4 linked regions of the Homo sapiens genome follow. The protein of the gene in region 1 interacts with the protein of each later gene in a pairwise test. Each region holds a gene or a part of one and is shown in the gene's direction. Other genes may lie near its edges.

Evidence for each region.
Region 2: the proteins of LENG8 (region 1) and CFAP53 interact in binary tests that used the Homo sapiens proteins (3 or more experiments, as listed by UniProt).
Region 3: the proteins of LENG8 (region 1) and HMGXB4 interact in binary tests that used the Homo sapiens proteins (3 or more experiments, as listed by UniProt).
Region 4: the proteins of LENG8 (region 1) and WFS1 interact in binary tests that used the Homo sapiens proteins (3 or more experiments, as listed by UniProt).

Annotation. Positions count from the first base shown.
Region 1 is NC_000019.10:54,444,544-54,452,207, forward strand, and holds the start of LENG8 (leukocyte receptor cluster member 8), read left to right. Parts: upstream 1-4,655; 5' UTR 4,656-4,767; intron 4,768-5,113; exon of another isoform or gene 5,114-5,201; intron 5,202-6,746; 5' UTR 6,747-6,801; coding exon 6,802-6,839; intron 6,840-7,549; coding exon 7,550-7,664.
Region 2 is NC_000018.10:50,228,488-50,235,508, reverse strand, and holds part of CFAP53 (cilia- and flagella-associated protein 53), read left to right. Parts: intron 1-7,021. UniProt on the Homo sapiens protein: Microtubule inner protein (MIP) part of the dynein-decorated doublet microtubules (DMTs) in cilia axoneme, which is required for motile cilia beating.
Region 3 is NC_000022.11:35,252,631-35,260,501, forward strand, and holds the start of HMGXB4 (HMG domain-containing protein 4), read left to right. Parts: upstream 1-4,862; 5' UTR 4,863-4,927; intron 4,928-5,557; exon of another isoform or gene 5,558-7,871. UniProt on the Homo sapiens protein: Negatively regulates Wnt/beta-catenin signaling during development.
Region 4 is NC_000004.12:6,286,829-6,293,849, forward strand, and holds part of WFS1 (wolframin), read left to right. Parts: intron 1-264; coding exon 265-347; intron 348-2,158; coding exon 2,159-2,303; intron 2,304-4,368; coding exon 4,369-4,539; intron 4,540-5,088; coding exon 5,089-5,169; intron 5,170-7,021. UniProt on the Homo sapiens protein: Participates in the regulation of cellular Ca(2+) homeostasis, at least partly, by modulating the filling state of the endoplasmic reticulum Ca(2+) store.

The DNA of each region.
Region 1 (7,664 bases):
TGCCTGTAGTCCCAGCTACTCGGGAGGCTGAGGCAGAAGAATTGCTTGAACCCGGGAGGCGGAGGTTGGAGTGAGCCGAGATGGTGCCACTGCACTCCAACCTGGGTGACAGAGTGAGACTCGGTCTCAAAAAAAAAAAAAAAAAAAAAAAAAAAAAAAAAAAAAAAAAGGATTGTTTCTGGGTGTGTCTGTGAGGGTGTTGCCAGGGAGGCTGACACTTGAGTGAGTGGACGGGGAGAGGGAGACCCACTCTCAGTGTGGGTGGGCACCATCCAGTCAGCGCAGAAGGTGGGAGGGGCTGGCTTGCTGAGTCTTCTGGCTTTCATCTTTCTCCTGTGCTGGATACTTCCTGTCTTTGGAGATTAGACTCCAGGTTCTTTGGCCTTTGGACTCTTGAACTTCCACCAGTGGTTTGTCGGGGACTCTTAGGCCTTCCGCCACAGACTGAAGGCTGCGCCGTTGGCTTCCCTACTTTTGAGGCTTTTGGACTTTGAGACGTGACTGGCTTCTTCCTTCCTCAGCTTGCAGATGGACTATAGTGGGACTTTGCCTGATGATCCTGTCAGCCAGTTCTCCCTAATATACTCCCTTTCAATATATACATATATCCTGTTAGTTCTGGCCCTCTGGAGAACCCTAATACAGATGGCAAATAAACACAGGAAAAGATGTTCACCGTATGTCATTAGGGAACCGTCCGTTAAAACAAGACACCACTGGCCGGGCGCGGGGGCTCACACCTGTAATCCCAGCACTTTGGAAGGCCAAGGCAGGTGGATCACGAGGTCAAGAGATCGAGATCATCCTGGCCAACATGGTGAAACCCCGTTTCTACTAAAAATACAAAAATTAGCTGGGCGTGGTGGCGCACGCCTGTAGTCCCAGCTACTCGGGAGGCTGAGGCAGGAGAATCGCTTGAACCCAGGAGGCGGAGGTTGCAGTGAGCCGAGACCATGCCACTGCACTCTAGCCTGGAAGACAGAGTGAGACTCTGTCTCAAAAAAACAAAAAAAAAACAAGACACCACTACATACCTATTAGAATGCCAAATCCAAAATGCTGGCACCACCAAATGCTGGCAGAAATGTGGAGCAACAGAAACCCTTCTTCATTGGTGCTGGCAATGCAGAATGGTACAGCTACTTTGGAGGACAGTGTGGTGGTCTCTCATAATCCTAAACATACTCTTAGAATATGAACCAGCAACACTGCTCCCCAGTATTTACACAGATGGGTTGAAAACTTCTGCCCACAAAGAAATCTGCACGTGCACGTTTATGGCAGCTTTCTTTATCACTGCCAAAAACTTGGAAGGAACCAAGATATCCTTCAATAAATGTCTTACTACATTCTGGTTGTTGTAACAAAATACCATACACTGCGTAGCTGAGGCAGGAGGATCACTTGAGCCTGGGAGGTTGAAGCTGCTGTGGGCTGAGACAGAGATCACATCATTGCACTCCAGCCTGGGTGACAGAATGAGAAACCCTGTCTCAAAAAAAAAAAAAAAGTACAGTTTTGGTTTTTGCTGTGACTGGGCTCCTGGAGTGAGAGCTCTGGATCCCAGCTGCAAGATGAGGAATCTGGAGCCGAGAGAAGGGAAACGAGTTTTCCAAGTCATACGGCTGGTTAAGTAAAAGAGCCGGGATTATGACTTAGGTTTCCTGCCCCCCAAGATTATTATTTTTTGAAACAGAGTTTCGCTCTGTCTCCCAGGCTGGAGTGCAATGGCATGATCTGGGCTCACTGCAACCTCCACCCCCAGGGTTCTAGCGATTCTCCTGCCTCAGCCTCATGAGTAACTGGGATTACAGGCATGCGCCACCATGCCCGGCTAATTTTTCTGTATTTTTAGTAGAGACGGGGTTTCGCCATGTTGGCCAGGCTGGTCTTGAACTCCTGACCTCAGGTGATCCACACGCCTCGGCCTCCCAAAGTGCTAGGATCACACGCATGAGCCACCGCGCCTGGCCTACCCAAGATTATTAAAATAAGTTTTCAGAAGCAACCCCCTACTGGCCAGGCGCAGTGGCTCATGCCTGTAATCCCGGCACTTTGGGAGGCAGAGGCGGGCGGGTCACCTGAGGTCCGGAATTCCAGATACTGTGAAACCCTGTCTTCACTAAAAATACAAAAATTAGCTGGGTGTGGTGGTGCACGCCTGTAAAGAGAATTGCTTGAACCTGGGAGGCAAAGGTTGCAGTGAGCTGAGATCGTGCTACTGCACTCCAGCCTGGGCGACAGAGCCGTCTCAAAAAATAATAATAATAATAGATTTTTTAAGAAAAGCAATCCCCTAGTGACTTCTTAGAGCACATCATCAGACAGTTGGGGTAAAATTCTGAAGTGGATTAAGGGAGGGGTGCTGGTTTGCCTGGATGGCTACATGAACATAGCCCTGGAACCAACCAAATATGTAACTGGACAACAGAAAAATAAGTACAGGGTGCATTAATCAGAGGCAACAATGTTTTGTACTTAAGTACACAGAAGACACGATGTGAAGACACCAAGAGAACAGTACTTTTCATGGTTAGACACATTTCTTAGGTATTTTTTCTACTTTGGGATTCTTTTGTGATATAATTTGTCCTGTTTACATAATTTTTTTCCCTGACATGTAAGATAAATGTATCTAATTGTGGGCTTACTTGTAAAGAGTTTTCACATTTAAGTTCCAGTCATTTCATTTTATCGCTGTATCTGTGTACAGAATGCTAAAGAATAAGACATAAAAAATAAAAGTACAGTTATAAACACCTCTTTTAAAAGGCAGAGACTGTTCGCTTGGGCAAAAAAAAGCAAGATCCAACTACATGCTATCTACAAGAAACCCACCCTAAATACAACAGGTAAAAGGAAGCTAAATGGAACGTGGGTCCTGGCTTGTACCCTGGCATGTAAAGAAAACATTGGAGGAAAAGGTGGTGAAATCCCAGTAAAGTCTGGGTTTTAGTTACAGTAATGCATCATGTCAGTATCTACAACAAACCACTTTTGTTGGTGCTTGTGATGACAGCATCAGAAGAAAGTGGGCATAAAACATGGTGGACTGCTTATGATCTTTGCAACTTTTCTTTTTTTTTTTTTTGAGACAAGAATTTCACTCTTGTTGCCCAGGCTGGAGTGCAATGGTGTAACCTCGGCTCACTGCAACCTTGGCCTCCTGGGTTCAAGCGATTCTCCTGCCTCAGCCTCCCGAGTAGCCGGGATTACAGGTGCACGCGCCACCACGCCCAGCTAATTTCTGTATTTTTAGTAGAGACGGGACTTCACCATGTTGGCCAGGCTGATCTTGAACTCCTGACCCCAGGTGATCCACCCATCTCGGCCTCCCAAAGTGTTGGGATTACAGGCGTGAGCCAGCGCGCCCGGTCTTTGCAACGTTTTGAATAAATCCAAAATTATTCCAGAACAAAAAGCTTAGTACCAAAAAGAAAACAAAAACAAAAACAAAACAAACCCCCCCCCCCCCACAGAGTAAAATAACGGAAAAAGATCTACTATGCTAGCACTAACAAAATAATACGTAGTTATGAAAATGGTATGTATTTTTCAAGCTAGACGTTCATAATGGTAGAACATGAGGAGGAAAACTGCCTCTTAAATCCCACCACTTACTGTGACACAGTGACCGGTCCCTGCAGCGGACTGGATAGTTGTATCAGAGTCCTGGACGGAAACAGATGGCACTCAAAAGGTGGCGCGCAGTTCAGAGAAATGCCTATGTACGGATTTGGTCCAATGCCTCAGCCTGACCTCAGGGACCTTCGGGGGTCTGCTCCGCGCCCACCCTTACACATCTGTGACCCCACACACTTCCACCCCAGCGCCACTGCCAACAGCTACACCCATCCCCCTCCAACCGCGTCAGCTTCCAGCCTCGGTCCATCTGAACTCGCCGTGCCCCCTCCCCTGCGCCCTTCCAGATTCATTTGCTAGGGAAGCCCGCTCTTCCGGGTGGAGCTGTTCCTCATCCCCTTTCTTTATCATTCTCTCCCCAGGGCTTCCACATCACCGTGCTGTGGACAATCCCGGAACTCCTGTCACGCCAGTTTACATTTAGGAACAGTAATGGCTCCCACTGACTCAGTCAAAACAAGGCTGCGGCCGGGCACGGTGGCTCACGCCCGTAATCCCAGCACTTTGGGAAGCCGAGACGGAGGGATCACGAGGTCAGGAGTTCGAGAACAGCCTGGCCGACATGGTGAAACCCCGTCTTTACTAAAAACACAAAAATTAGCCGGGCATAGTGGCGCGCGCCTGTAATCCCAGCTACTCCGGAGGCTGAGGCAGAATTGTTTGAACCCAGGAGGCGGAGGTTGCAGTGAGCAGAGATCACGCCACTGTACTCTATCGTGGGCGACGACAGAGCAAGAGCAAGACTCCGTCTCCGAGAACAACAACAACAGCAACAAGAAAACAACAATAAAAAAAATAAGGCTGCGTGGGAGGCAGAAAGAGCTAATGCGGCCACGCTTGTCTCCTCGGGGCCACCGTCCCCACCCAGACTTCCGGTCTGCCTTAAAATGTTCATGCGTAAGTGCGTGGGCAGGAAGGCGGGCTCAAGCGCAGCTCGTGGCGTTCATTGGCTGTGCAGGGCCGAGGGAGGCGGTGCAAGGCCGCCGCGTGACGTCAGGACGCCGCGGTCAGGACGTCGAAGCCAAAGAAGACCAGAGCCAGCCGGGTGGCACAGCGGTGTCGTGGCCGTGTTGCTGATCGCCTGGGTGGTTGTTGGCGTGTCCCTGCAGCGAAGGATCCTGGTTGGTAAGGGGAGCGGCAGGCGAGCAGGCGGGCGGGGATAGCATCTCCTTTTGGTCTTGCGCCCCGCGAGCCCCGAGGCCTTCTCGGCCGTCGCAGCAGCAGACGCCGCGCGCGAGCGTCGACAGGGTGTGGCGGCGCAGGGGCAGCCACTGCGCCTGCGCACCGGGCCTGGGGCCGCGCGTTCGGGCACTAGCGCGCGTGCGCCGTCGTCTTCTAATTTCCGTTCCTCTCCCTTGGAGTTCTCGGGGCCCCGGGGCGCCCCTCACTCGCCGTTGACCGGGTGTTGCCCCGGGCGACGGGCGGCTCCTGCGCGTCTTTCTGGGGCGTGGTGCGCAGGCGCGGCCTGGGCAGTGGCTCCGTGGCTAGTCGTGGGGATCCGAGCGGCCTCCTCCACCCGGCGTCCTCCTTTGCCTTCGCCCAGCCTGCGGGACGGCCAGGTGCTCCCGGGACCTCAGGCCTCGCGTCTGATGCCTGTCTCTGTTCTTGAGACCCGTCCGGGAGTCCTCTGTCCAGCCCCCAACTCCTGACCTTACCTCTAATCTCCCTTCTGCCCTGGGGCTCCTCTTCCTGTGTCCCCGCCACGATCCCTCGTCTCCACCCACGCCCTGTGTCCTGTTTAAGTTAAGCCTTTGCGTTTCTAGGGCTTTTCCCCAGCTCCAGACTCCCGTTCCTATCCCGTCAACTCGTGGGAATTCCGGTTCTCCTGCGGGATTAATTATCCTACTTATCAGTTACTCCCTCTCGGGAGTTTAGGCTCCTGAATCCTTGCTCCGGAGACACTCCACTTTTCTTCCAATTCTCTCTGTACCCCACTCTTAATTCGTTGAACATGTTTTGGGTCTTCTTTGGCATTCCCAAAGCTTTATGTCCAGACACCCAACCACGGTGATCCCTTTTCTCTCCCAGCCCTACCCCTGCTTCCGGGAACCTCCCGTGGAAGCAGGCAGGGGTAGTCCCACTGAGGACTCCCACGTAGGTCTCTTTACTGCCCTTCGGAGACCTTTTTGAAATCAGTCTGTCAGTGCTAAGAACCCATTTCTTCACGTTGGGGTTCACGTTGGCATTCTCAGGAACGCTCAACGACCACTTGCTTCCAGGGTTAACTTCCGGAAAATCCCCTTTTCCTCTCAAAATTTTCTTCTCTTCTCCAATATTCTTCCAGCCCCCTCGATGCTCCCTGAAAGGCCTCCCTTTTCACAGAGTTCTCGGAAACCTTTCCACCCTCTCAGCCTTAAGGGTTCCCTCAGACTCTTCTCATTATAGCATCCATCCTCTTGGTTCAGGTTCCTTTCACAACCCGTACTCCCTAGCTTTTTTTTTTTTTTTTTTTTTGAGACAGAGTTTCGCTCTTGTTGCCCAGGCTGGAGAGCAATGGCGCAGTCTCAGCTTACCGCCCTCCGCCTCCCGTGTTCAAGCGATTCTCCTGCCTCGGCCTCCCTAGTAGCTGGGATTACAGGCATATGCCACCATGCCCAGCTAATTTGGTATTTTTAGTAGAGACGTGGTTACTCCATGTTGGTTAGGCTGGTCTCGAACTCCCGACCTCAGGTGACCTGCCCGCCTTGGCCTCTCAAAGTGCTGGGATTACAGGCGTGAGCCACCGCGCCTGGCCCCTAGAATTTTTTGTAGACCTTTTCCCCTTGATGGAGGCACCCCTACCCTCTGGACCTTTCATCACAGCCTCTCTTTGCTCACATGGGTTTCAGACCCTTCTCCTTCCCTTTGGGAAGTCTGCTCTGGCTTCCCTGTTTCCAAATCCTTCGTTTTCCACCTGGAGCTCTACAAAGGGGCCAGGGGCTTCCCCTCACTCCAGCCTTTCTAGTCCACACCCAGAACTCTTCAGATCCTTGACCCCAGTGGCTTTTCAGTCAGCCTCCCCTTTTCTGCCCGGCTTCTCTTGAGTCCATCTACTTTTCTTCCCCACTTTGTGACGTGTTTTTAGCTCCCCCTTAAGTCTCCCTAACTCATTCTTTTTCTCATAGACAGTGAAAAAGCAGTCTGGCTCCCGAGGTCCACCCCTTATACCCCAAGGTCCAGATGGCGGCCAACGTGGGTGATCAACGTAGCACAGATTGGTTAGTGAGGCGAGAGGGATGGAGGCCAGTCGGGAGGGAAAGAGGAAGCAAGACCCAGTGCTGTCCTCTGGGGTGGGACCTCCCGTGGCCTTAGGGGAGGTGATGCCACAATCCCTGTGGGTGGGGGTGGTGGTGAGGCAAACACAGAGGGAAGCATTTGGTTGTGGTGTGGAGAGGGGCAAGCTTTCACCTCTCTGAGCTTTCGTTTTTCACAGTACAGCGCTTGCTTTGCAGAATTGTGATGATTCATTCAAGCAAGTGTAATTAGGAGGCAGCTTCCCAACACTCAATACACAGTCATTTATTTGTTTTTCTGCTGATTCCTTATTTTTTCTCAAAATAGTGTGATAACCTGCCGACTGGGGTGATGTCAGACAGAATTCATTGATTCATGAAAGACATAGCCCTAGGAGGTGCCAAGGCCTGTGTTCAGTTCTGTGGGTTCTGTTAATTGTTTTGTTTGTTTGGTTTTAACAACTGCTGTGTGCCAGGCTCTGGGATAAGTACCTTAAGTAGGTGATCTCATTTATCCCTCCCAGCAGACTCTGAAGCAGAAACCCTTTATCAGCATAGTACAGATTAGAAAACTTAGGCTTAGACTGGTAGTAACAGTTAGATATGGGATCCAGGGGCTGGAATTTGCCTCCCAACTTGCCCACCTGTGTACAGTGGGGAGAACAGGTGTGACTTGATGTCCTCTCTCTCTGCAGGTCTTCTCAGTACAGCATGGTGGCTGGGGCAGGCCGAGAGAATGGCATGGAGACGCCGATGCACGAGAACCCGGAGTGGGAGAAGGCCCGTCAGGCCCTGGCCAGCATCAGCAAG
Region 2 (7,021 bases), on another chromosome or scaffold:
GCAACCTCTGCCTCCCCAGGTTCAAGTGATTCTCCTGCCTCAGCCTCCCAAGTAGCTGGGGTTACAGGCGCATGCCACCACGCCCAGCTAATTTTTGTAATTTTTAGTAGAGACAGGGTTTCACCATATTGGCCAGGCTGGTCTCAAACTCCTGACCTTAGGTGATCCACCTGCCTCAGCCTCCCAAAGTGCTGGGATTACAGGTGTGAGCCACCGCACCCAGCCAATATGAGCTTTATTATAGATGGGAGAAGTAGGGCAACCCATAGCCAAACCCAGCTGGAGAAGCTTTGAAATAGCTGTGCCAGAAAGGAATCTTCAGGAACTCCTTTTTGAGGGCCCTCTAATACTTTGATGTCTTCTTTTATCTTTTCTAAAGTTTTTTGCTACCTGACCTGAGGTATTGATGTAAGAGCAACAAGTTTCATTTAACAGCATGCAGGTGCCTCCTGCCTCAGCGTTAAGCACATCCACAGCACATCAGTTTTGCAAGACAACCCCTGCCAATGAATTTAGGACCTGTTATTGGGCCTTGATGGCCATGACTTTAGCTTCTCAAGATTGCTGGACTAAGATGGTGATATTACAAATGCTGCACTCAAGCATGGGTATACCTGCAAACCAAAAGACTGCATGGGCAACAGAATGTCCTAGACCATTCCTCTCTATAATGAGATCATCAGTGGTGAGGATGCCAAATGATGGAAGGTTGATTAAATCCCGTTTCTGTTTCCTTTCTTCTGATGGCCTTTGAAGGGCCCAACTTAGGAAGGATCACAAATTTGGAACTTGGCCAGAGGTTATAAAGTCTAAGGAGTTATATATATGTACTCCAGGTATTGCTGCAACTATAGTGCACGTCCTCTCCATTTAATAGGCAAGGCTGGAAAAATGTTGGATCCACACAAAAAGAAGAGCCCAGTTCCTTTTAAAGAAACTCCTGAGGAGGGACCTTGTAACCAGGCATAGGTGTGGTTAGTTTGGATTCCAGTATAATTTGCATAAATAGAGGGATCCCATGGTCCCCAGGGATCAAATGTGGCTGGGTGGTGACCTAGAAAGTAGTCATTCATGCATAAGGGAGGAAAGTTTTACTTGTGTTATATGAATGTGGGGCCTGGCAGATAAGAGTTTTAAACATTAATGAGATAACGGAAAATCAAGAGAAAGTTGTAGATGTATTAGTGAGGTTGAGAAGTTGTCCAATCTCAACCCCTATTCCTATATATTCTATCCCAGTAGCTGAACTGTTTATAGGCATAAAAGGATCACTATAAATTTTGCTGGCATTAACTTTGTTGTTTCCCCACCATAGAGAAAACCTGCAGAGGTACACAGTGAACTTGTCATTGTTGTCATATAGCTTCCATTCCTGGTGTGTTTGATTATAGTTGAGGGTGTAATTACAATGGGCTTATGTTAAACACCCTAGGAAAGGGCCAGACCCTTTGGAGTTTCTGATGCAGAGGTGAGCCTTACAAGTGCCTATAAAAGGGCCAGATCCCTCGGATTTTCTGATGCAGAGGTGAACCTTACAGGCCATCTCTGGTGCCTTCCCAATCTGCTCCGTCACAGTGGATGATTGCCATGAGGAATCAATTGGCCTAGGCTCCCCTCCTAAACCTGTGTTTTTGGTGTGTGTGTAAATGGTGTAGTTGAATCCAGAGTATCAGGCTTGTTAGTAATTTCTTCTATGGATAGCGGGACTGCTAGGATATAATGTTATCTTTGAGTGCCTGTCCGCATGGGCATATCCAGAAGTTAGTGCTGTGTGTTATGTTAGCAACCTGAAATATTACTGGGAGGAGTAAGTGCCTGGCTCCAGCCATGGAGGCAATAGCCGTGATAGAATAAAAACAAAGCCATTTTTAAGGAAAATGACAATATGTAGTAAACTCAGGGAGACAGGCGAGAAGAAGGGCTGTAAAGAATATGAGAAAAACAGTTAACCAAACACCTAGTACCTTAGCACACTGATGTGGTGTGGGGGTAAATGACATTACTAGGACAAATATACAAAAAAATTCATCTGGGTGGTAATCTTGGAAGTCCGCTTGCAAATAGCAGTCGTAAACTACCTCCCTTATAAAAGCATCAATATTAAGAGGGTGACGCTGCTTAAGTGAGGCAGTTGGATAATTACTGAAAGCCTGTAGTAGAATTGGATAAAAAGAGTCAGCCTTAAGAGTAAGGTCTAAAGGAGGTGTTGGATTTATTTATTTATTTTTTATTTTTAAGGGAGGTTTAAAAATTCTGGGTTGTTTGAACAAAACCTCTTTTACCTTTTTTTCTTTAACTTTAAATGAGTTTTCGATGTTTGCATTCTAATTAGACCACAAAGAATGAGTTTTATCTCAGCACCAGGACCTTAGTAACAGCAGATTTAAAGCAGGCAGAAAAAAAGGAAGATAGAGAGCTATAGAAGACTTCACTTAACTTTATAGTGCAGGTTAACCATTTGAGCTCTGACTTTTTCTTGTTGTAGTTTGCCCGTTAGTTTAAAATGTACCATAATATGTAACCAGCTGGAGTTTTAAAGAGAATGACAAAATCAGGGGTTAGGATGTTAGAAACTGTCTTTCCCTTTTAAGGCTGGACCCCTGGATTGAACAGAAAAAGAGAAAAAGAAAAGGAAGGAATGGAGAGGAAAAGGTCAGGCTTTACAGGAGGGCTTGTGAGCCTTCCAGCCACTGCACAGTGCAAGGTCAGTACCCCTGCCACTTTTGTTTATCTCCCGCCAGGGAGAGCATTAGCACCCCAGACCTACAAGGTGTGGGATAAATTCTTCCCAACTTTGCAAGTTATCAGTTAAGGTGAGCTGTTTCCAGACAGAGCAGAGAGCCTATTTAGCATAAGGCCATTAGGGGTTGAGATTCTGTCCTGGGGGCCCTTTGATCATCAGGGCAGTCTTTTTTCCAGTGGCTGAGCTTGTGGCAGAGAGAGTAAGCCAGGCAGGGCTTTTAAAATTTATTCCACTGGGGCACTCTGCCTTTCAGTAACCTGGCGTTTTGCACTGATGGCAGTTATCTGAAGGAATGTATTTTTAGGGAAACCTGGAGGGGCTGGGGCTTGTAAAGCAGCCAACAGTTGAGCCTGTCTCTTGCCTCTGCATTTTTCTTTCTTCTTAGCCCTGTCCTCCTTATTCTGCTGTCAGTTGTAAAGGACTCAGGAGGCTAATTTGATGGTTTTCTACATAGGGGCCATGCTGTGTTACACAATAAATTAGACATTTCTTTTTGAGGGTTTGAGAGTTAAATTTGTCTTAATGTTTTAGGATACAACCCAGAAGTGAGTCTGAAGGAATAGATGGGGTTTGTCCCATGGTGGGACTAGAAAACATGCTGCTTGGGGATGGTGCAACTCAGGGGCACAAACTGCACTTTCTCTCAGGATGTCCAGCCGAGATGAAAAGCAGTTCCACTTAGGTCTACTGAGGAACTTGGGGTGCACTTTCTAAAGGGGTGTCCCACCTATTAAGAAAGTCCCCTCGGCCACTCAGGGGCCTTATGCTGGATGGCCAGTCCAGGTACAAGGAAAATGGGTGAAGGGAGGACTCTGCCTGTGTTGGCCCAGGAGAGGGGGTGGGTAAGGGAAAACTCATGGTTCTGAGGCTGTCTGAGATCACCTGATTTAGCAACATCTGGGACAGAATGGCTGGCTGACTCCACAGGAGGATTCAGAGTGAGAAAGAGTGTCTGAGTCACCCAAAATGTGTGAATTTGCTCTGAATGAGCTTCTGCTGCCAGTCGCATCACACGTAGGGATTAGGGACTTCTGACCAGAGAGTATAGGAGGAAGCCTTCCTCTCTTCCAGGCCAGGTGGCTATTTGGCCTTCAGGCAACACCGGATAGTAGCCACAGCTGGTTACTGTCAGTTGCCAAAGAGATACTAAAAGCCAGCTGCTGAAAGGCTGAAAAGAGAAAGTAAACTCAGGTCCCTCACCTGAACAGGTGGTAGTTAGATGCTTCCACACGGATACCTTTCAGTCCCACAGGAGTGTAGGTAGCTCCAGCTAGAGACCTACAATTGTCTCTCTGGGTAGATACTGTCCACTGAGGTTCCTAAGTTGGGAAAGGGAAAGAGAGAGGCCAGAGGCTTCCTCATAAGGAGAGAGTTTCCCATACAGGCTACCAAAATGTGGGTGAGCAGTGACTATCTGGGTCAGTGGTGCAGGGGTAAAAGAATTTACCAAGACAGTTGTAGGTAAAGAAAGGCAGATTTATTAGAGAAAGTAGGAAAACTCAGTGCAAGAAAGCAATGGGCAGCCAGCAAGAGAGGAGCTGACTGCCAGGAAACAAAGGCTTGCCAGAGATTTTATAGGATGGTTCTTGGGCTACTTGATAACACCAAGGTAGCAGGGAGCTAACTTGCATTCTTCTGTCAGCCGAGGTGTTTGATGATAAATCGAAGCATTTGATGTTAAGCAGAAGTTTGTGAGTTTTGTATGTTATCTGCACAGGAGGGCTGTATGTCCTGGGCCATGAACAAAGGCAGACCTATAGCTTACTGCTTTATCTCTTTGCTTTATCCTGGTTCCGCCAGCCTGATTCCTTTTCCCTAAATAGGATACACATATGGGGAGGGAGACAGTACTGTGGCCATCTTTGGAAAATAGAATCTGCCATAGAGGGGTATCCACATTATCTTTATTTCTGATAAAATTCTATTATCTTTATTTCTGATAAAAGTTGATGGAGTGTTTTCTGACCCCAACAACAAATTCTCTGATTCTCCAGACCCCAACTGGGTGTCCAAGAATTCAATTCAGTTCTGATAGTAACTACCCAGAGTTAGTATAGACCCCTCAGGGTAAGGGCTTAGTCCCACAGAACTGCTGCCACTTCAGACACCAGATGCTAGTCCCAGACCACCTTCTGATCAACCAGCTATAAATTGGGGGTTCCCACGACCTCCTCCTCAGGTTCAACAGTTTGCTAGAATTGCTCAGAGAAATCAGGAACACATTTGACTTGTGTTTACCAGTTTATCACAATGGACACAACTCAGGAACAGCCAACTGGAAGAGATGCATAGGGGCTTCCGTGCTCTCTGCGGGTGCACCATCCTTTCAGCACCTCCCTGTGTCACCATCACAGATGCCCTCAGAACATCCTTGTTCAAGAGTTTTTAGAGCTTCATCTCCAGCCCCCACCTTCCCCTCCCAAGAGGTCAGTGGGTGGGGCTGAAAGTCCTAACCCCCTCATCACTTGGTCTTTCTAGTGACCAACCCCATCCTGAGGCCACCCAGGGGCCCTACCCTAAGTCAGCTTATTAGCATAAAATTGGGTGTTCCTATGAATTACAAAAGATACTTTTATCACTCAGGAAATTACAAGAGTTGTAGGAGCTCTGTGCCAAGAACTAGGAACAAAGATCAAATATAATTCTTATTATACCACAGCTGATATTAAAAATGTGGCTTATATTTCTAGCCATTGAAACTACAAAGAGGCCAGGCATGGTGGGTCATGCCTGTAATCCCACCACTTTGGGAGGCCAAGGTGAGTGGATCTCTTGAACCCAGGAGTTTGAGACCGGCCTGTGCAACATGGTGTAACTCTGTCTCTAAAAAAATACAACAACAACAAAAAAATTAGCTGGGTGTGGTTGTGTGCACCTATAGTCCCAAATACCTGGGATGCTGAGGTGGGAGGATCACCTGAACCTGGGAGGTTGAAGCTGCAGTGAGCCATGATTGTGTGATTGTGCCAGTAGTGTACTCCAGCCTGGGTGACAAGAGTGAGACCCTGTCTGAAAAAAAAAAAAAGAAAAAGAAAAAAAGAAAGAGACTACAAAGAAAAAAATGTGGCTTATAAATTGTAAAATTATATAACCATTATGGAAAACAGTATGGAGTTTCCTCCAAAAAATAAATATTAAAACTACTACATAATCTGGCAACCCACTTCTGGGTATATGTCCAAAAAATTAAAAGCAGGGTCTTGAAGAGATATTTGCACAGAAATATTCATAGCACTATTCACAGTATTCAAGAGGTAGAAGCAACCCAAGGGTCTATTAATGAAATGAATAGATAAACAAAACATGGTATATATTTATGATGGAATATTTTTCAGCCTTAAAAAGCAAGGAAATCCTGTCACATGCCACAGTATGGATGAACCTGGAGGACATTATGCTAAGTGAAATAAGCCAATCACAAAAAGACAAATACTGTATGATTCTACTTTTATGAGACATATAAAGTAGTCAGATTTATAGAAACATAAAGTAGAATGGTGGTTACCAGGGGTTGTGGGGAGAAAAGAGGGGAGGGAGTTTCAGATTTGCAAGATGAAGAAGTCCTGGAGATCTCTTTTACAGCAATATGGAGACTTAACTACTGAACTGTACACTTAAAAATGGTTAAGATGTAAATTTGTTATGTGGGTTTTGTTTGTTTGTTTTTGTTTTTGTTTTTTGACAAGGTCTTGCTCTGTTGCCCAGGCTGGGGTGCAGTAGTGTGATCATGGCTCACTGAAACCTCAACCTTCTGGGCTCAGAAAATCCACCCACTTCAGCTGGGACCACAGGCACATGCCACCATGCCTGGCTAGTTTTTTATTTTTTTGTACAGATCAGGTCTCCCTATGTTGCCCAGGCTGGTCTCAAACTCCTGTGATCCTCCTGTCTTGGGCTCCTAAGGTGCTGGGATTATTAGGTGTATGACCTATGTAAATTTTTTTGTTTTGTTTTTTGTTTGTTTGTTTGTTTTTGAGATGGAGTTTGACTCTTGTTACCCAGGCTGGAGTGCAATGGCGCAGTCTTGGCTCACTGCAACCTCCGCCTCCTGGGTTCAAGTGATTCTCCTGCCTCAGCCTCCTGAGTAGCTGGGATTACAGGCATGTACCACCATGCCCAGCTAAATTTTGTATTTTTAGTAGAGACGGAGTTTCTCCATGTTGGTCAGGCTGGTCTCGAACTCCTGACCTCAGGTGATCCACCCAACCTCAGCCTCCCAAGTGCTGGGATTACATGCATGAGCCACCATGCCCATCATAATGTGTTTTTTATTACAAT
Region 3 (7,871 bases), on another chromosome or scaffold:
ATAGGAGCTTTCTAGCTGCATGTTGCTAGCTAGATGCATGAGCTGGCAAAAGTGGTGGAGTGTGGGGGACCCATTAGAGACAAGAAAATGTGGCCAGGCGTAGTGGCTCACGCCTGTAATCCCAGCACTTTGGGAGGCCAAGGCGGGTGGATCATGAGGTCAAGAGTTCGAGACCAGCCTGACCAACATGGAGAAACCCCATCTCTACTAAAAATACAGAAATTAGCTGGGCATGATGGCACGCGCCTGTAATCCCAGCTCGGGAGGCTGAGGCAGGCGGATCACCTGAGATCAGAAGTTCAAGACCAGCTGGCCAACATGTGAAACCCCATCTCTACTAAAAACACAAAAATTAGCTGGGTGTGGTGGCACATACCTGTAATCCCAGCTACTTGGGAGGCTGAGGCAGGAGAATCGCTTGAATCCGGGAGGCGGAGGTTGCAGTGAGCCGAGGTCATGCCACTGCACTCCAGCCTGGGCGACAAGAGCAAAACTCCATCTCAAAAAAAAAAAAAAAAAAGAAAAAAGTCATTAGCTGAAGTATAAGCTCATGTTAGCAGTGCTTTATCCTGACAGCAATGGCGGATGGACTTCGAAGTGGGGAAGGGGCCCTGAAGATAAAAATCCATTAGGAAGCTATTGTAATAGCCCAATGAGAGATGGCCCATCTATTGGGGCACATTTTTCTTTTACATTTGTACCATAGTAATTATGGACTTAGACTTGTTTTACATTGCCCACAAAACACACATACACACAGAAGATAATAAGTTGCTCAAAAGCAGGAAAACAAGTATCATTGCTTCACCATAGGGGACATTTATTATTTGTCTTCCCAGAATAGATCCCCTTTCTTTTATAGAAGGACTAATGTCCTATTGCAACTTTGTGGTATCCCAGGAACTATCACAATACTGAATGATCACATGACCCCATCCCAGCCAATTGGAGTTCTTCTCTTGGATTTTGTGCGCGCGCGCGCGCGCGTGTGTGTGTGTGTATGTGTGTTGCTGATGTGGGAACATGCTCTTTCCTCTCTGGTCAGGAGACTATAAAGATGTAAGCCTGGGCTACCTGTGGCCATGATTCCAGGCCCCTAGGGACTGCCAGCCTGAGAGAACAGAGTTAAGAGGGAAGGATTTGAATCCCCGGACCCAGCTGTCCAGAGGGCCTGCTTCTCTCTGGCTCTGAGTAGTTTTTGTTTTGTTTTGTTTTTTACATGAGTTACATATTTTCTACTGGTCTCTTTATTTTTTTAATTTTGCAATTTAGGGCATACACACAGACTGAGAATCTGTGGTATGTCCCTCTGCCTGTCTCTTAAGGTAGTTTTAATTAGGTCCTGTCACTTCTAGCAAAAGGCCCTGGCCTAATGTATGTACCCAGGATGGCATCCTCCCATCAGACCGAAGACAAAGACGCTGCTCAAAACACATCTGGAAAGAGAAGAGCACAGAAAAGTGGCCTGAAGAAAGAGATGTCCAAACCAAGCACAATTTGACAGGCCCCACCTGTTGCTGCCAGGCACCAGGCAGTTTTCCTTAGATCAGGTGGACCAGAGAACTGCCCCACACTTAGGGAGTGCCCCCTCTTCACATATGCTAGATGCTATCCTCACTTGCCATGGGAAAAGGCATTCTTATTCACAAACCCCACCATGACTAGGCCTGCCCAGAGGGTCCTCTTTTCTGTCTTTCCAAGTTTCAAAAATGCAAGAGAACTATGAAAGATAGTCAGCAAAGAATACTTTTCCAGCAAGGTACAGAGGAAGCACTTGAATACATTCAAGGAACTATGATCTCCTGGCTCCCACCACCAACCCACTTCTGGCTGAGCTAGCTCCGGTGTGCACCTCAACAGAGAAGCCTCCCTGATTACTGTTTTAAAGAACAAGCTGTTCCTACCCACATCCCCTGCTGGTACTCTCGTAGCCAACCTGGCATTATTTTCTCCACCTCTGATTATCACTGAATGTAGTATTCATATCTTAATTTTGTGTCCCCCAACCCAACCGGAATGTAAGCTCCTGGGGGCCAAGGACTCTCAATTCTGTTCACTGTTCTATTCCCAACACTTAAGACAGTACCTGCCACATGCTGTGTTTTCAATAAATATCTGTTTAATAAATGGAAGTGCAATGATCCAAGACTGGGAGCAAGTTAATAGCATTTTGTGATTGAGTGAGTAGGCTGAGGAGAGATCTGACTTCAGGTCTCCAGGAGCTTAAAATGAGCAAGAACTTGATATGCTCCATCTTCAGGTGGACTAAAAGAAGAAATGGGACCAATAGGACTCATAAGGCTTTTAGGTCCAAGCTAGTGGTAGAGTGTGGGGACAGCTACTGTTTTTGCCTACCTAACATGCACTCACCCTTCTGACAGCAACCCTTGATTTTCTTTGTGTCTACCCCAACCTAATTTTGGAGGTAAGCAGATGACCTAATTTAACCAATCAGCAGCAGCAGCAGACTCCACACCTTTACTCATAGTGATTGCTTTTTGTCTGGACACATGATCTAATTCAGGCAATAAGAATCAATCCCATGACTTTTGCCAAAGCAAAAGGGAAAAAGAAACTCCTTCCAGGGCCAGGCATGGTGGCTCACATCTGTAATCCCAGCACTCTGGGAGGCCAAGGCAGGAGGATTGCTTGAGTCCAGGAGCTTGAGACCAGCCTGGGCAACATGGTAAAAAAAAAACAACAAAAAAAACCCATCTCTACAAAAAATACAAAAAGTACCTGGGCATGGTGGCATGCACCTGTGGTCCCAGCTACTTGGGGGGCTGAGGTGGGAGGATTGCTTGAACTCAGGGGGTCGAAGCTGCAGTGAGCTGTGATCGTGCCACTGCACTCCAGCCTGGGTGACAGAGAAAGACCCTGTCTCAAAACAAACAAACAAAACCTCCCTCCACAGGGACACTGCTAGCAGGAAAGATGATGAAGCTTGGAGCTGCTGGAGTCATCACCTGAATCTGAGAATAAAGCTAACAGAGGAGAGCACCACAGACACGTCAAAGGACCAGCTTGAGTTACCTCCCTGGAAGTGACCATGTCTGCAGGTACTGGAAATTTCAATCATGTGAGCCAATAAATTCCCCTCTTCTGGGGAAACACATGGAAATGGGTTTCTGTCACAACTGAAATCATCCTGACCAATGGATTTAGGGCTCTGAAGAACAAAAAGGAAATACATCATTAGGGCTCTTAAATGCCTCAAAGGGAAGCCTAACGTCAGGCAGGGTGTCCCAGAAATGCAATCTAACACCTTTTGGTGAAACTCATTGCCTGTCTTTTTGGTGAGTAGGATGGGAGCTGCGGAGAAAAAGGCCATGCTACTTTTATTAAGTATTTGCAGTTACATTTTGCAAATGATTTCAGCAACTTTATCTCAGGTGTTTTAACATCTCAGCATCTCACAGTTGTAAGAAACAGAATCAATCTTCTACTCAGTGCAGAGGGGGAGAGAGCATGATATAGCAAAAAGAGCACTGAACCAGAGTCTAACAATCTGGCTTTTCATCTTTATCTGATCACTGATTAGAGTGTGGTCTCAGACAAATCACCTTGCTTTTATTGGTCTCATGACTACCTCGTCTTCAAGCACTCACCCAACTCTGCAATGGAAAATACACTAGGACAGAGGTTCTTAATTTTTTATGGGGCCTGGGCCCTAGGAAAACACACACTGCACACATGATTTTACGTTGCATGGGGTTCACAACTCTAGAAGCCAATCTACATCTCTAACTTCTCTGCTTTACAGTAACACCAGCTTCTGCTTGAGCGCTCCTCCAGTGGGAGGGAGCTCACTACTCACAAGGAAGCCCATTGTACTACTGAACTGTACTAGAAAAATAAGTTATTCTTCATATATATATATATTTTTTGAGATGGAGTCTCACTCTGTCCCCCAGGCTGGAGTGCAGTGGCGCAATCTCGGCTCACTGCAATCTCCGCCTCCCGGGTTCAAGCGATTCTCCTGCCTCAGCCTCCTAAGTAGCTGGGATTACAGGCACGCGCCACCACGCCTGGCTAATTTTTTGTATTTTTAGTAGAGACGGGGTTTCACCACATTGGTCAGGCTGGTCTCGAACTCCTGACCTCAGGTGATCCACCCACCTCAGCCTCCCAAAGTGCTGGGATTACAGGCGTGAGCCACCGCCCCTGGCGTTCTTCTTCATATCAAACCAAGTTCTATACACTGTAATTTCTACTCATTGGTCGAAGTTCTCAATGGCAAATCAGAAAAATTGTGTTCTCGCCTGTATATGACATCTCTTCCTCTCTCTCTCTGAAGACTGTTTCTAACTAAAAAATGTAGATGATTCGCCATGCAAATTATTTTACTGTACATTGTTACAAAGATAAGTTCTTCACCTCACCCCTAATATGCCAAATGTTCAAATGTAGATGCTGAAGTCCAAATAAGCACACTGCTATTAATCTGCATAGATCTAGGTGTTGCAAAGAGGAGAACTGCTGTATAACAATATCTTGAAAGAAACAGCATAGTATTTTGGGGAAAGCACTGCATTCAGAATCAGAAGACTTGGAGTAATACTCGGTCTCACATTCCAACTACCTGTGTATCCTTGGGCACGTCACTTAACTTCTCTCAGCCTGGTTCTCTTCTGCAAAATGCGACAGGAATACAGTGAGGATTAAGTGAAATAATGTTTGTAAGCTTCTAGGGCAAGGCTGGGACATAGCAAATTCTCAATAAATAAGTGCCAGCTCCCGCGCTCAGCAGGCTCCGAGTTTTATTCGATGCGCTCGGCGCTCTTGGTCGAGCGGGATTCCCCCTCCGGAGCCCGAGTCTGCGCTCTGGGCTCGACTGAGGCTCCCTGGCCGCTCGCGCTTTTCTCTCCTTCTCCAAGATGGCGGCGATCGGCGGCGTTGAGGCGGGATCCGGGCGAGCCGAGTGAAGGTAGCGGCGAGCGGAGACCCCAGGAGACCGGGCTGGGCCCCCACCCTGAGGCGGCAGCAGCCCCGCCCCGTCGCCACCCGCCGCCCTGGGCCCGCGACATCACCTCTGGGGTGCCCCAGGCCCTTCGCGGCCTAGCCCAGGGGCCGAGCCGGGGACTGGAGTAGCGGCCGCAGCCGCCCCCAGGAAGGGGCTGGAGCGGGCAGAAGGAGGAGGGCGGGCGGGAGCTGTTCAAACGGGGAAGGCGGGAAAGCTGCGGGGCCGGGAGGGGGCGTGCGGCCGCCCCGGGGGCCTGCGGACCCGGGCCGCCCCTCCCCCTGCCCGGGCCGTCTCCGCCCTCGGGGGCGCCGTGAGGCCGCCGGAGACGCGGGAACCCGGGTTCAGGTCGAGCTGTGCGGCTCGGAACCCGCGATGCGGGGGTCCCTCGGGCTGTCAGGGGGAAAGGGCTCGTGGCCGCGGCCACGGGAGGGCTGGGGCTGCGGCTGGCAGGAGAAAGTACGAGGAGCTTTCTTCTTTTCCTCTTCACAGAGCTTTGTTGAGCTAGCTGTTGCCGCAAAACTGCCGGGAGAATCCCACTGGTTTGCCTTGGGGACCACAAAAATGGTGGTCCTGGGGGCTGTTTGTGTAAATCACCTGGTATTTTGTGTGTTTCTTGCGTGCAACCCGGCTTGGCCGTGCCTTCGTGGTGGGCGCCTTCTCCATGCAGGCCCATTTTCCCTCCACCAACTACTACTTGTAGATTCACTTTATAGCGTGCAAAAGCGGAGAAACATCTCTGTCCCCTCTTTTGGAGGGCTAAGCTGGTGGCTGATTATATTTCCTCCTAATAGAACAAAGTAAAAAACTGAATCCCAAATAAAGCCTGTTGATTGGACAAGGCTTCTCAAAATTCGATTGCTGGTCTTATGGAATGTGTGTTGTCAGCCAATCTGTGCGGTGGTCGTGGTTCCGCTTAATTGCACTGCAATGAGAGGATTCAATCCCCATCCCCGACTGTCGGGATCTCTGCAGCTTCCAGAGCTGGCAGGGGCTGGGAGTGCTGCCTAGGTAGGTCCCTGGAGAAGGGAGTGGCAAGAGGATTCGGAGTCACCGTGTTCGGAGATTGGAAGAAACCTGGACGAAGTTGAGAAGGCATCACTTGTCTGTATCGTAGAAGTAACAAGAAAATTTCAGAAATTGGCAACCGGCGGATGTGCATCTTCCTTTACCTGCACTGACTGGCATTTTGAGTTCTTGAAAGGAGTGGTTGGAAGAAGAGAATGCAGAATCTTGGACATGGCTCTCATCCTGGAACAGACCTGGAGTTCAGAATTTCTCTTACTGTCCGTGTGACGGGGCTTACTTTGTTTCCTTTTTTTCGATACTCATTTACATTATGGGGTGAAGAAGGTTGTTGATTGCAGGAGCTCAAGTTACCTCAAAAAAAGTCTGAAACCTGTTTTTTAACTGTAATTTGAAGTTTCAAAATGACAAAGTGCTATATCTGAGGACTTTTTCCTCCTGATTACTTTGGTCATCCCAAAGGCCTATGCCTGAACATAACTTGTATGCTTATCTACCAGGGAAAGAGCAACTCTGCCCCCTCCTTTTTCATATCCTGAAGAAAAGTCCCCGAAGAGCTATTTAACAATTTGTGCATTTCATAAGTATACATTTTTATGGTACCAGTTTTTTACTTGTATCAACAGTATGAAATAGTGAACTTTTACTTATGTTGTCATATCTTAGCACACTGAGACAAACAAAATTATTCTTGCCTCTTGGAGTTGACAACATTGAATTTTATAAACTCCCAAATTATTGAATTGAGACTGGGTTTTAACACCTGTTTCACATTTGCCAACATTTAATGTAATTATGACCTCCCTTTTCTAATGTGAAAATCAAACCTAATATTCATTTTCATTAATCCTCACAATCTACTCTCTACCCCTGAACTCTGAATTTTCACAGATTGTATTCAAGACCTGGAAGGAATATCAGGGGTTCATCTGATCTTATATAAATGTTGCCTGAACTCTGCCTTTCTTTCACACTGTTGCTTGAGATTTATCTGGTATCTTTCCAAAACTAAACCCTGAGCTGCAATAATATCCTGATTTTAAAGAACGTAGAAATTCAGGGCCCATCGGTCTGCCCAAGCTGTGGCTGATACAGTCCGTTGTGTTTAATTTTAGTTTTTCAAGCTCTTGGCTGCCCCAGTTCTTCAGTGAATTGGACGTGTCTTCAGGCCTCATTCCTTCTTTTTTCTTCAGGTTATTTAATCCAGTAATTTATAAAATGCTCTTCAGTGTTTTTAAGAAAATTTAAACAGTGGTAGACCTAATATATGTAATGCCAACACCACATTTTCTTGGTTGGCCTGTGCCTCTGAGAAGCAGTTCCTAATTTTCTATTCCCTCTCACAACTTTTTAATCCACTAGTTTTTTAAAGCAGCCAGTAACGAGACCACGATACAGTCATCTTTCTTTCTTTCTGTCTTCAGAGGTACTTATTTCTATTCTGTTAGGTTGCCCAACTCTGTTTTATGTTGATTTTGATGTTACCAAAGGGAAGGCCTGTTATAAGTCTCAGGACCAGCCTTTGCTTACATATACAAGTGCATTTTGTTGTTGACAAAACACTGATGACTGTATTTATGACATTGAATATTTAAGTTTTTTGCCATTATTTCTGAAATATTCTTTGCCAAAATTCATGCACAGAAAGTGTTTAATTTGAGGTCTCCATTGGTTCTTGGCATTATCAGCCTATGAAAATCTATATAATCTATATATTTTTCTTATAAACTCAGTATTTTAGTGCCATTGAGAGGATATGCTGTTTTCAAATAAATTGATATAATTCCCTGTATTTCCCTTCTACCTGCACCCCTTTTGGAGTCAGCACCACTTGGGTGGAAAGGGGAGGACAGTAGTTTCCGCTGAGAAAGTGTCATCCTTAAAT
Region 4 (7,021 bases), on another chromosome or scaffold:
CCCGAGCGCTTTGAGTTGCTGTTGAACCACCTCACCCGCATAGAGTTTGCTCATCTTGCTCTGGCGCTGCTTGTGACCGGAAGGCAAACAGTGGCTTTCTGGGCATCTTCCCTGTCTGTGTCTGTGTCTCTCTGTACTCCTGGCCTGGATTTGAAAGTGACAAGCAGCAGCAGATCTGAAGACCCTCATGCCTTGTCCCCTCCATCCTGACAAGTGACAAAGTCTGGCTTTGTGACATGTGTGTTTGTTTCTTCTGTGTTAAAGGGCCTACAAAGGGAGACATGGAAATCCCCTTTGAAGAAGTCCTGGAGAGGGCCAAGGCCGGGGACCCCAAGGCACAGACTGAGGTGAGGACTGCGGTGCCGGCAGGGACTTCGGGACGCGGCCCCCGGCACAACAGGCCTGGCCACGAGCTCCACAGCCCACAGAGAAGTGTCGGTGCCTGAGATCGGGGTCAGGAGCCAGCGTGGTGCACCCTACCCCACTTGAGCCCCATGTTGGTAGGGTGCCCATGTTCACTGTGCCAGTTTTCCTCCTGGCACTCCTCTGGGGAGCAGCGCTCATCCCCCTTTTGTCCAACTCACACCTCATCTTGGGCATCACCTCCTCCAGGATGACCTCCTGGCTTCCTGCAGCTGCCTGCTCAGTGCCACCCCTCAACATACACTGTGTATGCTGCCCACTCTTGTCTCCCTGACTGGCCTTTCACCTGGCTGTTAGCTGTGTGCACGGGGCCCTCAGAGCGGTGACCATTCACTTGGGCATCAGCCAAGGGCTGGGCTTTGTGCCAGTGCTGGGGACATGATGTGGCCCTCTCTTCATGGGTGACAGGTTAGTGGAAGAAGCAGACCCAAAAAACCCAAGTAGACAAGACACAGAAATACAGTGATTTTGAATTCTGGTGAGGGGAGAAGCCAGCAGAACGCTGAGACGGGAGGTGGCAGGGGGTCCTGTGTCCTCTGTGGAGGCAAGTTCTCACCACCTCACTCTGTCCCCTTGCACAGGGCTCAAGCAAGTGACCACAGTTATCCTGAGCAGTTTCCTGCCCCCTCTTCTCCCTAAAGAGGAGAAAAGCTTCCACGCGAAACCATAAATTAAGAATTTCTGGCTGGGAGCGGTGGCTCACGCCTGTAATCCCAGCACTTTGGGAGGCTGAGGCGGGTGGATCACCTGAGGTCAGGAGTTCGTGACCAGCCTGGCCAACATGATGAAACCGTGTCTCCACTACAAATAGAAAAATTAGCCAGACATGGTGGTGCATGCCTGTAATCCCAGCTACTTGGGAGGCTGAGACAGGAAAATCACTTGAACCCAGGAAGTGGAGGTTGCAGTGAGCCGAGATCGCACCACCACGCTCCCAACTGAGCAACAGAGCAAGACTCTGTCTCAAAAAAAAAAAAAAAAAAATTTCTTTCCTGACCTCACAGCCATATTGTACTTTAAAGTTCCTCCCACATCCTTTTGCCCAGGCATTTGGAGGCGGGGGGAGCATAGTAAGCCCTTTTATGGGCTCTCTGTGCCCTGGGCCTCACTTTTTCCATCTGTAGAATGAGAAGACTGGACCATTTCAGCAGGGATTCTTTTTGCAAAGGGCCAGATAGTGAATATTCTGGACTCTGCGCAATCTCTGCCGTGTTGCTCAGCTTTGCTGTGGAGCACGTAAAAGCAGCATGGACAACATGTAAATGAATGGTTATGGTTGTATTTCAATAAAACTTTATTTGCAAAAACAGGCAGTGGGCCAGTGCTAACCCTTGGTTAGCTGGCGTCTCTCCAGCCCTGGCTTTCTATGGTCCCCTGACTGTTTTGAGAGGTGTAAAGGACCCAGTCATGGTTCTGATTTCCATGCATTGATGGTGAGCCTTGGCAGGCAGGAGCAACTCAAGGAAGAGAACCTGTACCAGTACCAGTCGGAGCCCGTGTCTCCCTCGCCGTGTGGATGGGGTGGCCACACCTTCCTCACCGTGTTTTGAGGAGCGAGTGGCCGGAGGCTCAGTAGGGCCTAGCCTAGTGGACATGCCTGGTGTGACCCCATTTCTGCCCCTTCCTTCCTGGCCTGGGTGACAAAGGGAAGTGGGTGAAAGGAGGTGGGCTGGCAGGGAGCATGGGGTGGGAGAGGGTCGGAGAATCTGGAGGCTGACTGGTGTCTGGCTTGCAGGTGGGGAAGCACTACCTGCAGTTGGCCGGCGACACGGATGAAGAACTCAACAGCTGCACCGCTGTGGACTGGCTGGTCCTCGCCGCGAAGCAGGGCCGTCGCGAGGCTGTGAAGCTGCTTCGCCGGTGCTTGGCGGACAGAAGAGGTGGGTCTGTGTGAGGCTTAGAACAGCCTCTGGAGGGTTGAGCAGCTTGTAATGCTGCTTGCTAACTGAACAACTAAAATCTTACCAAACCTAACGCTGGTGATGCTGTTGGGAAATTTCAGTTTCTGTTTTGCTGGTGGCCTTCTCATTTTAGACACTGTTTCTGGACTTAACATGGGATATTTAACAGACCAAGCCATTTTCATTCTCTTTGGCTTGTGTTGGTATCTCCAAGTGGTAACTATACATCCTGCTTCCCTGCTGGGTTCTGATCCAAACTGAGACATCGATCCTGGGTTCAGCTGAGAGGCAGTTTCCCTGAGGCAAAGCTGGAGACTGTAATGTGGCCTGCAGTCAGAGTGGCCCATGCCCCTGAGCTGATGTCCGTCGAGTCTGGGCAGACCAGCTGAGGGGCTGTGGGCCCACACAGACCTGGACAAGCATGTTCACTTTGGGAGGAGGCAGGCTGACCCTTCATAGATAATCTCTTTCAAACAGAGAGGCAGGGGAGGAAAGGGACGCAGCTCAGGCCAGGGGTGGTGAGTTAGGACGTTGTCCTGCGCAAGGGAAGTGGCTGTCCCTGGTGCCGTGGGGCAGTGTGCTTCCTGAAGGTTCCACGCCTCAGGGAAAGATGAAAGTGGGTGTCACAAAGGTGTTTTTTCTAATGATACCTTTTTTTTCAGATTGTAAGAGTATTTTATGCTTATCATAGAAAACTTGGACTATGTAGAAAACATAAAGATACAAATTACTCATAACCTTGAAGCCCAGAAGCAACTCCCCATATTTTGGTGTATTTCCTTCTGTGTTTGTTGTTGTTGTTTTGAGATGGAGTCTCACTCTGTCGCCCAGGCTAGAGTGCAGGGGTGCGATCTCAAGTCACTGTAACCTCCACCTCCCTGGTTCAAGCAATTCTCCTGCCTCAGCCTTTTGAGTAGCTGAGATTACAGGCGTGCATTACCACACCTAGCTAATTTTTGTATTTTTAGCAGAGACAGGGTTTCATCAGGTTGGCCAGGCTGGTCACAAACTCCTGACCTCAGGGGATCCACCCTCCTTGGCCTCCCAAAGTGATGAGAGTACAGGCGTGAGCCACCATGCCCAGCTTGTATCATATTTTAAGAGTTACATTTATTATACAGAGTCTTCTCTTTGAAAATTAAACTGATGATTTTGAAAAACTAACAGTGGCATTGTTAGCCAGAATTTCTCACCAACCCAGCCTGCTGATTCCAGAGCAGTTGGAATGACCTGGAGGGGGCTCAGGCGGCCCACACGGCTCATTGTTGGGTGCCAGGGATAGCCCAGAGGCTGCTGGGGCAGAGCGTGCAAGGGAGGAGGCCGGTTGGCCCCGTGTTCCCCCAGCTGCACACACCTTCTGATGTGCAGTTGTGCTTTCTGATTTGAAAAGAAATACATGCTCATGTGGAAAATTTTGGAAATGTTCAAAAGGAGAAAAACATCCAGACCCCCGTGCCAGTCCTCCTGCCCTCTGCTTGGTTGTGCCAGTGTCCCAGGCCGTTGGGGGTAAAGGGAGGAAGGCAGCTGCTGACCAGCGGTAAAACCTGCTCTCCCTCTCCCCGCTGTCCAAGCCTTCCTTAGAAAGGGCTGGGCTGTGTGTGAGACAGAGGAAAGCTCTGTAGACACAGGGGTGGCCCTGCCAGTGCACCCAGGCTGGTGACTGCAGTGAGTCCACCCTGGGTTCAAGACAGCTCTGCCTCTTTCTGACTGTGTGACCTTGAGTGAGCCAGAACACAGGCCTGTGCCTCCGGGTCTGCACCTCTGAGAGAGGGGAGGAACAGGAAGAGGCTGCCTTCTTCCCGCCAGCATGTAGGGGGCACTTGGGGGCGTCTGGTGGGAGACCAGTCTGGCCTCCCAGCTGGAGAGTGGGCGTGGCGCGATGTCCTCTTGAGTCAGATGTCCATGCATCCTTCCCTGGTAACCAAGTCCTGACACCTTCTATGAGTCTCGCTCGAAAGCCTTCCAGGCAGAGTTGGCAGGGTCAGAGTGGCACCGAAAGCCTAGGCAGGGCACACAAGGCCTTTGACCACATCCTATCCCTCAGGCATCACGTCCGAGAACGAACGGGAGGTGAGGCAGCTCTCCTCCGAGACCGACCTGGAGAGGGCCGTGCGCAAGGCAGCCCTGGTCATGTACTGGAAGCTCAACCCCAAGAAGAAGAAGCAGGTGGCCGTGGCGGAGCTGCTGGAGAATGTCGGCCAGGTCAACGAGCACGGTGCGAGGATTCACCCTGGGCACCAGCCTTCCCTGGGCGCCAGCCTTCCCACAGGAGCCAGGACCTTCCCATAGGGGCTGGGACCTTCCCTCAGGGGCTGGGTCTTCCCACAGGAGCCGGGACCTTCCCTGTGAGGACAGGGCCCTTCCTTGTGGGGACCAGGGGACCAGAACCTTCCTGTAGAGACCGTGCCCTAGTGGTGAGGTGTGTGGGTGGCATTTTGACAGCATCTGCCCTGGCTCAAGTGCTCACTCATTGAATAAACCAGAGGGTATTCTGCCCAGTGCTCTGTGACCACGTCTACCAATGGGACGGACTGTGTCCATCACCAAGTGGGAGCACGCTACGTGGTGCTGAGTCCACCCCAGCTACTGGAGGTACAGAGGTGTGGCCCCTGCTCTGCCTGCCCTGGGGGCCCTATGATCCCCAGAACGTAGGATGCCCCTGGAACTGGCGTGCCCTAGGAACAGTGCGCCAGTTTCTGGTGGGCTGCAGGGCACGAGGAGATAGTCAACTTGTCTGACTGTTAATCCACCCTGTCCCCTGCAGATGGAGGGGCGCAGCCAGGCCCCGTGCCCAAGTCCCTGCAGAAGCAGAGGCGCATGCTGGAGCGCCTGGTCAGCAGCGAGTGTGAGTGCAGCCCCTGCCCCGTCTCACCCATGCCTCCCAGCCTGCACCTGCAGGGCGACCTCTCCTTCCTGTGCGACTCCATCCTGGCCTGCCCTATCTCACCCGTGCCTCCCAGCCTGCGCCTGCAGGGCGACCTCTCCTTCCTGTGCGACCCCATCCTGGCCCTGCTAGGATCTCAGGCGGTCCGTTTGGGGCTCAGTGTTCTGGACGCTGGGAGTAGACCCTGCCCACCTGGAGCGCACGCACTGGAGGGAAGGCAGACCCAGGACAGAAACCATGATGTGCCAGTCCCTCTTGGACAAGGAAATACTGGGGGTGGGGACTGGCGGGGGGGTCCTGAGTGGGGAAGGATGAGGAGGGCATTAGGGGAAGGGGCTCCGGGCAGAGGGAACAGCATGAGCAAAGGCCCAGGAGACCCAGCAGGGTGTGGAAGGGGCTCTGCCCCAGCGTAGGCCCTTTGTAGGTAGGCAGGGAACAGAGTGGGCAGAGCCTAGGTTGGGGGATAGAGTCTCTGGGGCACACTGAGCTGGGGGTGCCTCTGGGATGTTTGTGGTCAAAGACTGAGAAGAGACGTCACATCCTCCACGTGCAGCTGGCCAGCCTCACTGTCTTCCATCCACGTGGGGTAGACTCTGCAGTCTGAGGCACTGGGAGCTCCTGTCCTGGAGAAGATAGACAGGCAGGAGGCTTGGGGGCTCAGTATCAATGGGGGGATGGGCCAAGACCCAGGTCTGCCACAGACTCTTCTTGTGACATGGGCAGGTCTCATTTTTCTTTCTGGGTGTCAGTTTCCCCTTCTGAACAGTGAGATGATCAGACAAGGGGACTGAAGGACCTCGCCCATCCTAGAAGCCTCTGTGGCATGTAGGGCAGAGTACAGGTGGGAGCACAGATCCCACCTTCCCACTGGGCCCGTGAGGAAACCGTCCATAGGGTGTGGTCAGAGCCCTCGCCTCTGCGTGGGCGGACATGGGTGCTTGCGCTGCTGTTTTCCTGCTCCATTTGGGGGAGACAAAGAAACACCTCACATGGAAGTGGGAAGAAATCTGTGACTCTAGGAAGCCCGAGGACCAGAGAGGCTGTGACAGTGTCCTGCCACCGAGGTGGCATGGTGCCTGCTGTCCTGAAGTGAGGTGCCTCTGGGCAGGAGCAGCCCAGCCTGGGTCTCCATCCTGGGGGGCACTGCAGGCAGAGTCTGGACCCCAACCTCACTTCCCAGTCCCACAGGGGTTTGTGATGAGCCGGGCACACCTGCTGCTGGGCCCTGTCGCTGTTGCTGGGGGCGAGTTAGGAGTCAGCGCTGCCAGCCTGTGGTCCCCTCCGCCAGGCCCTCAGGGACAGGGCCCCAGCACCCCCATTGTTTCCCCTCTATCAGAACGTTCCCATCAGGCATCATCTGTTTCTCTGCCAGCTTTTCCAACAGAACTCCCAGAAAGGGGCGTCTGTCATCCCCTTCTCTCGTCCTCCGTCCTTTGCTCTCAGGCCTCTGCCATGTTATTCCACCAAAGCGGCTCGTCTAGGCCATCAGTGACCCCCCTTGCTCAGTCACTTCTTGTCCTTGTCTGACTTGATCTGTCAGCAGCGTGGGCAGAGATGACTGCTCTTCTCCTTAGAGCCCTCTCCCCCACCAGGCCCGGGGCCCTTGCTGCCACACTGGCTGCTCCTTCTTGGGGTCCCTAGACTGATGTCCTGTCTCTCAGGACAGGACATCCTGCCCAAGGTATTCATCCCTATGAGGACAGGGGCCTTCCTTGTGGGGACCAGGGTCTTCCCGTAGGGACTGTGCTCTGGTAGGGAGATGTGTGGGTGGCATTGGTGACCACTCTCGTGTGTCAGACGCCGTCCTGAACCC